Linked DNA regions of Homo sapiens: region 2 is linked to region 1. Evidence: fine-mapped expression QTL. A gene starts in region 1. The other region holds a variant in brackets. All regions are shown on one strand. Distances are between the middles of the regions.

Region 1 (5,374 bases):
TGGAAGGTGAGGATTCCATCAAGGCTAGAATGTCGAACAATAAATTCCTGTCAGGTGATTATCTGCCTGAGATGAAAACTATTCCCATTTCTCAGTTTGCTTGAATACATGCTATTCTGCCTGATATTTGGTACCATAAATTGACCTTTAGGTTACTAAATCCACAGAGCATGAACTGTTTCATTATGCAGTGTTTTTTTTTTTTTTAATGCTGTAGTTTTCTTTCCATCCCAATTTTATGCACTTATTGTACATGCTGGTAACTTTTTAATTTTGAGGCCTTTTTTTTCTCTTAGTTTTCATTATTTTACCTGACACAGTTCACTTCTGTTACACGTCTTTAAATCTTAAATCAGCAAATGAAAGGCTGAGAAAGTTCAGTAACTTTAATTCCAATGTATGCCTTTCACTTGAACTTTTTATGCATTGCTTCCACCACCAGTGCTCAACATTTAGTTCCATCTAGCAAAAAAAAAAAAAAAAAAAAGAAAAAGAAAAGAAAAGAAGAAAATTACAGTGTCCTTTGGGATGCCAGCAACTTATTGTTGTTGTTTTTAATTAATAAGAAAAAAGATTACATTCATCTAATCAAAGATTTTTGTCCTGACCTTAACTGTTAAAAACAAAAATGCTTTGAAAGTATGGTATTTGCAAAACCCCTGAGAAGACACTAATGGGATTCCCATGATCTAATACATGTAAGGCTTTAACTGTAACTGTAAACCCACTGAAGGCTTATGATCTGAAAGTATGAACTATTGTAGCCAGTTTTTATGGGTTTAATTCCACCAGCAAATCCCAGTTTCTATATTTTAATTCTCAACTAGAGCAAAATAACGACACATTTTCAACTAACAATCCGAAAGAAGAAAGTACTGGAATAACGGAGCCAGAAAACCATTGCCAACAGCCACCCTCTACCACGAACCATCAGTGAACTTCGAAAAGCACAAGACTGAGCAACACTTAAGTCTGTGAAATACGTGCATTTCACTTATAACACTCACAAAACTACATATGAATCATTTTTTTTTCCTCTGATTTATTTCCCACACAAGGTTCAATAAAACACGACACTTACTCAGCCACCTCTGACTGAATGACTATTCTCTGCAGCTATTTATTACTCCTCTTCTGCCACGTTTTCTTCTATGATCCAATTCTGTGACTCCTATAAGCCAGGAAAAGCTGCCTTCAAGTCAACACAGCACAAAGTCACTGAAAATTCTGCCGGCACTAGGCTCTACCTAGGTGCTTAGAAGTTGTTCTGTTTTGTCCTGGGAATGTCCCATACGCAATGTTAATGACTGAAACAGATCCTCTCTTTTTCCTCGAAGGGAATTGAGTTATTATAACAAAGGATGATTTGTGCTCAAAACAATATTCAACTTATCACCCCTATTCAGTATGTATGTGTCCAAGGGTCCACAACCACCTATACACAAATGTAAAAATATCAGTTCTCAGGAGATCTATCTTGTTTCTAAAATTTCTTATTTGTTCCTTGTTTCATATATTTCTTGGTTTTAAAAATTCAGTATTACAAGGCTTGTTATGGGACATCAGGCCTAATTCTACCTTACAGACAAATTAACTTTAAAAAGGCATAACTGAATACAGTATACATTTTACAACCAAATACATGTAGGAACAATTTGGTTTTAAAAGAACTTCACTGTATGTATTTATCATATGTTTACTGATTGTCATATAGGGACTATCAATGGAACCAAGAGAAAATACAGGATTCCACGCATTGAGCATTAACAACTCAAATGTTCCAAAAAATATCTTCCAAAACTGTTGGCCCTTCATTTTTTCATTTTAAGTGTAATTTAATTTATCTCATGCCTCTCATGCAACTAACAATCTCAAAGGTTCTTTTGGTTTGGAAATACTTTATGCTTACCTTTAATGGAAAGCACACTCAATAACTTTTTTCTGATAAAAAGTGCTCCTACTTCTTTTTCGTTTTATTATACCCATGTTCCATAACCTAAATCCTAACAATGCCGAGATACTTTGAAACTTGGATCTTCTCTTAATGCATTCAAAATTTTAAAAGTACCTTGGATTTATTTTCGATAGAAACTCTACTACGTTTTCAATATATGTATTAAGTTCTCTTTATCTTTACTATTGCTCTTACCTCCCGTGAAGAGAGAAAACCAGGTGTGAGTAATGTTTTCATTGTTACCATTGCTGGTTTTGGTCACTTAAGACAAACGAGGGTGACCTTTTCGGCTTGACTTAAGACAAACGAGGGTGACCTTTTCGGCTTGTGCCACAAAGACAATGTACTTCAGAACTACTTTCTCAGAGGGCGATCATTGTAAGCAAAGCTCAGTGAATTCGAGATTTTGTTGAGAACCTCAGGATACTGATTTACTTGCAAAATTCACAGTGGAGACAGTAGGAGGCTGGACAAGTTAACTCAAGGTGAGATGCAAGGCCGCCAAGCTCAAGTTTGAAATTCACACACACCACCACTTCCTGAAACAACGATTTAGACGCTGAACCTGCTCAAGTGTTTGAACTTTCAGCAGGAAACGAGGAAGCGTTCTCCTCCGAGCAGGACAATCAGGCGTTGCGCGAGCAGCCCACTCCTAAGGCCCTGCCGCCTTTATTTCCACTCGTGCCATCCACACCTTGCGTGGTCCTTCCCGGCCACGTCGCAGATGCCTTTGCAATGCCCACCGCTTGCTGAGGCGCAGGAAAAGAATCCCTTAACTTAACCCTTCCTCTCGCCCTCGGATCGCAAAGCACAGGCCACCTACACGGACGTGAAAGCTACCGAACCCCACTTATCCCCTAGCGGAGCGTCTTACCCGTACAGGAATGCAGGGGCTTGGGTCGCACGACCAGCGACGGGCACACGGAGTAGAGGGAAAGTTTCTCAAAGTAATCGCAGGTCTCCTTGGAGAGGATCTCGTCGATCATGAAAGTCTTGTAGCGCCGCCTGGCTGCTTTGAGCTGGCCGGGCGAGCTCAGCCTCAGCTCGGCGTGGCAGTGCATGGTGAGCCGGCGCGAGCGTCCGCCGGCCCGAGCGCGGCTGCGAGTGCCCGGCCCGCTGGGGCCGCGGGGCTGGCGCGACGGCGGGGCCTGGGCCCCGCTCCCGGCAGCTGGGGAGGCGGCGGGGCTCGGGTGGCGCGCGGAGGAGAGCGGGTAGCGGGCGCGCCTGCCGCGCGTCTAGACCCACCCGCAGATCAGCATCTTCGCTGAGCCTTTTTGGGACAACGCAGCTGTCAATCAGCGCGAGCTTCCTGCAGGGCCGGGTGCGGAGTGTGTGCTGAGGGGCGTCCGCGCCCACCCCGCCCCCGCCCGCCCGTGCCACTCCGGCGCCGACCTGCGCGCCTAGTGCCCGGCGGCTCTCAGTCGCTGCCTCCCGCTCTGGTGTCTCGCGCTCCTCTGCCTGGCTCTCTATTTTAAGACGCTCGTTTTGGCTCTCCTCCCCCTCCCCCCCGGGACGCGCTCCAGGTGTGTGTGCAGGAGTGTGCGCGCGGTGCGGGGAGCGCGCACCGCCCCAGCCCGCGGCCAAGGCCCAGGCCGGTAGCTCCCCGGGGCAGTGTTCCCCATGAGCACCTTACTGCCTGTCCTGCCACCCGCCGGCCCGGCTCCCAGTGTCCGCAGCCCAGCGGGAGGGCACGTTCAGGTCTCTTACTAGAAAGAAGTCTAGTCCTCACTAGGCTCCCGGGACTTCGGGCCACAGAGCCAGTGCCCCCGAGGACCCACCGTGCCTTTCTCCTTCCCCGCGTGGACGGTTTCCCGAAGACCGCGGCTTCCCAAGCCCTCCACTCGCAGTCTCGCAGCCCGCGCTGAGCCTGCGCGCTCCGAGCGTAAGACTTTTGAGCTGAAGTTGCAAACTTGACTGCCCCAAGATCCCAAATCATAAATGACCCTGGCCCCGTCCGTTACCCTCATAAAAAACTGAGAAAAAAAAAAAGATAAGAAAAGAAAAACTAATAAAAGTGTGAGTTATCGCCGGGCGCGGTGGCTCAAGCCTGTAATCCCAACATTTGGGAGGCCGACGTGAGACGATAGCTTGAGGTCAGAGGTTCGAGACCAGCCTGGTCAATATAGGGAGACCCTGTCTTTACAAAAGAAAAATTAAAAACAGGCATGGTGGTGCACGCCTGTAGTCCCAGCTACTGGAGAGGTTGAGGCAAGAGGAAACCTGTAGTCCCAGCTATTGGAGAGGTTTAGGCAGGAGGAAATCTTGAGCCCAGGAGTTCGCGGCTGCAGTGAGCCGGGATCTCGTCACTGCACTCCAGCCTGGGCGACAAGAGCGAGATTCTGACTTTTTAAAAAAGTGTGCGGTTTTTTTTAAAACATTGTTTATAAAAACATTTTTTCCTCGTTGGAAAGGGTCAGAGCTGCACGATTCTAGGGAGCCGGCGGGCACTGGGGCAGCCTGTCCCATGCGGGCTTCTCCCAGCGCCCGAGTCTTCCGGCAAAGGGGCTTTCAATATCCGGATCCCTCGCGATACGACCGGGTTAGAGAGTCGCGAAGACAGGCGTTTATTGGGTGATTTGCCTTTTTCTTTCCAGGCTCTTAGTCTTAGGGTCTGTTCCAATCAAAATCTGTACGGACTTTAGTTGTTCATTGGAATTGCTGCGTAAAGGGGACCCCGCCGAGCCTCCGCGCCCGGGAAGCCTCCGGCAGCCTGAGTCGCGCCCGGTGTTCGGCGGGAACAGCCCAGTGCACGCCCGTTTCCACGACTTTATGTTGGAATGAGTGTGCATGGGGTTGGAAGGAAAACGCACGACAGGGACACTGAGAAGTATAGACGCGGATGGCCTTCCCTAGGGCCGAGTTTGGGGCCGGTGACATTTCCTCCCCGCTCCCAGCCTAGAAGCGTCCGCGAGTGCCGGCGGGCTCTCTGCGGAGCTGCTTGCCCAGGGGGCCCTGGTGGCCGCGGAAGCAAGTAAATGAGGGCGCCTGGGCCGGTGATTAAACTAGGAGGGAGGGACACGCCCAGAGGACTAATCATTAGGCTGTTAGAGAAAATAGATTTTTTCTTTTTTTTTTGAGACCGAGCCTCACTCTGTCGCCCAGGCTGGAGTGCAGTGGCGTGATCTCGCCTCATTGCAACCTCTGCCCCCCAGGTTCAAGCGATTCTCCTGCCTCAGTCTCCCGAGAAGCTGGGATTACAGGCGCCTGTCACCGCGCCCGGCTAACTTTTGTATTTTTTAGTAGAGACCAGGTTTCACCATCTTGGCCAGGCTGGTCTTGAACTCCTGACCTCGTGATTCACCCGCTTCGCCTCCCAAAGTGCTGGGATTACAGGCGTGAGAAAATAGATGTTAAGAGGCCAAGTCACAGCCTAGCATTAGACAAGGCCCGCAACGCGTCTTTGAGGAACTTCATTCCCGA
Region 2 (5,374 bases), 84 kb before region 1:
CCTCTAAAGAAAAGCCCAGGACCAGATGAATTTAATGCCAAATTACCAAACATATAAAGAACACCAATTCTCTTCAAACTATTCCAAAAAATTAAAGAGCAGGAAATTCTACCCAATTCATGCTACAAAGTCAGTATTACCCTGATACCAAAATCAGATAAGACACAAGAAAAAAAACAAAACAAAAACTACAGGCCAGTATCCCTGTTGAAAACAGATTACAAAAATTCTCGGCCGGGCGCGGTGGCTCACGCCTGTAATCCCAGCACTTTGGGAGGCCGAGGTGGGCGGATCACGAGGTCAGGAGATCGAGACCATCCCGGCTAAAACGGTGAAACCCCGTCTCTACTAAAAATACAAAAAATTAGCCGGGCGTAGTGGCGGGCGCCTGTAGTCCCAGCTACTTGGGAGGCTGAGGCAGGAGAATGGCGTGAACCCGGGAGGCGGAGCTTGCAGTGAGCCGAGATCCCGCCACTGCACTCCAGCCTGGGCGACAGAGCGAGACTCTGTCTCAAAAAAAAAAAAAAAAAAAAAAAAATTCTCAACAAAGTGCTAGCAAACCAAATCCAACAGCACATCAAAAGATAATACACCATGATGAAGTGTGATTTATACCAGGAATGCATGGATGGTTCAACATATGTAAATAAATAAATGTTATACATCACCAATAGGATGAAGGACAAAAACTCTATGATCACCTCAATATATGCAGAAAAACACTGGATAAAATTAAACATCCCTTTATGAGAAAAACTCAATGAACTAGGCATAGAAGGAATATACCTTAACATAATAAAGGCCATATATGACAAACCCATAGCACACAACATACTGAATGGGAAAAGCTGAAAGCCTTTCCTCTCAGAACTGGTACAAGACAGGGATGCCTACTTTCACCACTACTATTTAACAAAGTACTTGAAATCTTAGCCAGAGCAATCAGATGAGAGAAAGAAATAAAAGGCAACTGTCCGTCTTTGCAGATGACATGACCTTACATTTAGAAAACCCTGAAGACTTCACCAAAAACCTCTTATAACTGATAAACAGATTCAGTAAAGTTGCAGGATATAAAATTCACTTATAAAAATCTGTAGTATTTCTATACACCAATAATGAACTAGCTGAAAAAGAAATTAGGAAGACAATCCCACTTACAATACTTATAATAGCTATCAAAAAATAAAATAAAATACCTTGGAATAAATTTAACTAAGGAGGCAAAAAAAAAAAAAAAAAAAAAAAAAACCTCTGTAAGGAAAACTACAAGACATTGATGAAAGAAATTGAAGAGGACACAAACAAATGGAAAGACATCCCATGCTCATGGATCAGAAGAATTAATGTCATTAAAATGACCACAGTACCCAAAGCAATCTATAGATTCTCCCTCAAAATACCAATGAAATTTTTCACAGAAATGGAAAAAACAATCCTAATAGTCGTTTGCTACTGAAAAAGAGCCTGGGTAGCCAAAGGAATCCTGAGCAAAAAGAACAAAGATGGAGGCGTCACACACTTTAATTTTATTGACATAAATATGATTAGGAAAATATTGAGAATCCCAAATGTGATTGGAGAGGGATTTAATTGGATGGTGGATGCCTATGACAAATCAGGCAAATGGAATTTTTCATTCAAGACTGAAAGGAGATGTAAATTTATTAAATATGGCTCAGGAAATTTGGACATCTAAATGCTCTGTCTTGGGAATAAAAATCAGAAGACTTCCTCTGATCTAGAGTAAAAGAATAGGATGTGGAATGGAGATTCAGTTTTCACTTTGGCTTATGAAATCTATAAGGCTTTATAAAAGTCTTAGATAATATGAAAAGTTTCCATGTTTCATATTGTTTCAGCAATGCTAATTTAGTGCTCATGTGCTCTAAAGTTTTCCATTGCTAAGCCTTTACTGTTCTCTTGGGAACTAAATTGTCTTTTCTAGGGTTTTGCATTTAACTTGCTGTAAGTAATTGACATGTGCCAGGGCAATGATGGACTGGAAGCTACTCAAAGTCTAAGGCTAGTTATTAAATCTGGTTTATGTGTTAAAAAGGTCAAAAGTTAGATATTTCCTTTCACACATCCCCATTCACCAAAAGAGGGCTGGATTCTTTTAGCTACAGGAATATGACCCCAAATAACTTTAAATTAGAGCTTTTTATTTCAACATATGTAAAATATATGTAAAATTGTAAAAGATTTATTTAATTTTCAAAATGTCAAAAATAAAGTAAATTGAACATTGGAAACTCACCTCCCAAAAATTCTGGTATGCTATGTCTATAAATACTTTTTTTCACCTTTATGAATAAAGTTAGCTGTCTTTGGAGCACTCTATATCAGCTGATGCTTTAAATAGTCAGATCCTGCCACTAAGTCTAGAATTGGCTCAATTCTGGAAAGTTTTTTACAGCTGCCTCCGAGGGCAAAAGCCTTTAGAAATATGCACCCATTGAAGTCTCTGATTCCCATGACCACGCACTGGTGTTCCAGGGCCCAGCAAGCATAGTACCTTTGATAACAAAAGCAAATATTTGCCATCCTTAGAAAGCAATACAAAACAACCAGCTCCAACACATCCCAAGCTTCTGTATGGGTGAATGAACACTCCTTCTTGGTTCATATTTGCTTGTGGAACATCTGTTTTGACTGTTCATTGTATGTGTGTAATTATGCTCTGTTCATAGTAACTTTTTCATATTATGGACTTTATTTGCATTGAAAACACACTGCAAATAAAAAGAAATGCCAAAAGAGAAACCAGAGAAGAAAAAGAGATGGGGGAGCAGCGAAAGGAAGAGTAGCTCCGGGCCTTTAAGGAGCAGAAGCCAAGTGATCCTGGGGCCAGAGCCAGGGCCCCA[A/G]GGCTACTGAGACCTCAGCGGTCACTGCGACAATGGCTGAGAAGGGGCAGCATCCTCATCTGCAGCTTGGACAGAGGACTTGGCATTCCAGGAGCATCTACTGAGGTTCAAACTTCCACTTGTGCCCCTCCTGCTCTGATGTGGGAAGCCATGTACCCTAGCGAGGCTTGCTGCACCACAGTGAGGACGCTGTCCTGTTACTGTGCTTCAGATGGGGGCTCACCCTCCAAGTTCCTCCAGAGGCTGGCACCCCTCCCAAGGTCAGTGCACGTGCCAACACACTCCAATGCCCTCAAATGTTCCTGACCCCCTGATACACAACCAAAGAGGTGGCGGGGAACCCAGACTTGTTGCTAGTACAGGTGAGTGGATGGAGGGCTTGATCATTCACACTCGAGGGGAGGACTGCACCCTAAACAGTGAGAGTAGGCTGTGAGAGATGGCCCCATTACAGCAGTGTAGGGGCAGGGGCACCCACCCATGCTGGGGGGTGCAGGGTCAGCCTGCCTCGGCACTCTGCTCTGAGATCAGGCTTGGCCAACTCAGACTCCTTGGAGGTAAGCACAGGCCCAATATAAGGATAAAAAACCTCCCAGCTGTGTTGATAACTCTGCAAGTTACCTAGCCACATTAAGTCTCAGTCTCCCCACCTCTGAAATGGAGACAGTAATAGGACCTACTGCATAGGGCTGCTGAGGTGATGAAACGTGATGATATAAAGAACTTCCTTGTTCTGGTGCCTGATATATAGTCTACATGCATTAAAATGACACTGGACCAGGCTCTAGCTACCTTTTGTGTGTGTGTGGCAAGGTTGCACTGTTGCCCAGGCTGGGGTGCAGTGACATGATCACAGCACACTGCAGCCTCAGCCTCCTGGGCTCAAGCAGTCCTCCCACCTCAGCCTCCCAAAGTGTTTGGCATTACAGGCGTGAGCCACCACACTTAGGACTCTTGCTACTTTCAGCTGAGCAATTTGTGTGTTTAAGGAGCCAGGTGCTTGGGAAGAGATGCCACCAGAAGGAGGGAAGCCCTGGGAAAACCAAGAGAGTTTGGATTGAGGAAATTGACTGAGGATCCCAAAGGGGCACAGATTTGGCCTGACATGCCCAGAGGTTCTTGGGAACCATTTCGAGCAGGTGCACAGCAGCCACTGAACCCGCCCCACACCGTCTGCTCTCTGGCAGCCCAGACAAAGAAGAACTCTAGACCTCAGAATCCTGCAGGAGCGATGATACATGTCTTGACAAACAGGGTAAATTCAGGGCAACTGTGAGGGCCCTTGTTACATTCTTGAGCTACAGGAGAGGCCGCTGCTTGGGTTTCGGTTGTTCTTGGCCTCCTCACTAACCTGGGGCACTATTTCCTCCTCCTCTCCTGTCCCCCATGCCTCCCCCACCCTCTTTAAAAAAAATGTTTAAAGGCTTTTGTGAGTGAATGATCTTAATCATGAAGCAGGCATGATGACAGTTTGCAGAGCTAAATGGGCACTTAACTGTGTGTCTAATAAATCCGCAACAAAAATAAACAGAAAGGAAGAGGGTTTGGGAAAGAAAGGAGGCCAGGCCGGCAGGCATGAAAGGAGCCTGTCATGGTGATTTACACAGCACCCCTCGGCAGGCGGTTTCCGCCCCGGCCCCTCCTGGCCGTGGCTGACCTGCAGATGCCAGAGGCTGACAGCACAGAGCAGCAGGTGGAGGCCAGTGCCAGAGCACACCTGGATGGAGTGCAAGCAGAGTGGAAAAGGAGGCAGGAAGGCTGCCCCATCCACTGTCCATGGGTAAGGCAAAGGCAAAGTGCAAGGCAGGGAAACCAGGCTGGTGGCAGCCACTTTCCTCAGGATCGGTGCCCAGATTACAGACAGTATTATCTGGATCTGCCTGCTTGTCCCAAACCATTCTCCACCCAGGATTTGGTTAACAACCTGGGATTAGAGGCATACTCAGGTGAATTTAGCAAACACCTCTTATTCCAGTGTTAATCACCCTTCCAGGGGCACAAGAGGCCTACCTAAGGCATGAACCCTCTCTTAGTGTCTTAGCCTGGTGAGGATGTGCTTAGGAATGCATCTTCCATGAATCACCTTTCTTGCCCAGAAAGAACGCCATCGTGCAGCGTAAGGGGAGGTGTAAATATTATAAAACCTTGGCTGGAATCCCTGGCCCCACCCCCAAATTCACTAGATTATAAGTTTCTCCAACAAGATTTTAGTGTATTTGAGGGAAGGAACAGGTTACTTTGCCCCCTTCTCCCCCTCCCACCCACCTTCCTCCCATAGTATTAGCACAGGGCTAGGCACAAAATAAATGTTGAAGAAATACTTGTTGGCATGGATGGTGGCTGACGAGCTTCTGGTGGTAGGAGGTCCCAGGCACTGCTTTCTAAGGGCAGGGCTGCACCGGCTCTGGTCCTGGTTGGCCTTGAGGCCCTCTCTCAAGTCGTTGCCATCTCTTCCAGTTTACCCCTCTGCAAAATGGAAAGGATGTCTCTGGCTGCTGCTTATTCTG

Alleles and levels. Positions count from the first base shown, and alleles are read on the strand shown. Sizes are in standard deviations (SD) of each study's normalised expression.
In carriers of allele A in region 2, the expression in transverse colon of the gene that starts at base 3,203 in region 1 tends to be higher than with G alone (small effect, 0.20 SD a copy in GTEx).

The links. PIP is the estimated chance that this variant, and not a neighbour inherited with it, causes the effect. A credible set is the group of variants that fine-mapping cannot tell apart.
Region 2: its variant is the best candidate, but not a certain one, in a credible set for the expression of BARX2 in transverse colon (GTEx, PIP 0.53).

Annotation. Positions count from the first base shown.
Region 1 is chr11:129,373,677-129,379,050 of GRCh38, reverse strand. BARX2 (BARX homeobox 2) reads right to left here and starts at 3,203. Exons shown (of 4, transcript NM_003658.5): 1 at 2,829-3,203. The coding sequence starts at 3,015.
Region 2 is chr11:129,458,063-129,463,436 of GRCh38, reverse strand. No RefSeq gene overlaps it. Among named protein-coding and RNA genes, the nearest start is that of BARX2, 85 kb to the right of the region's middle. The variant A/G (reference allele first, on the strand shown) is at 2,868.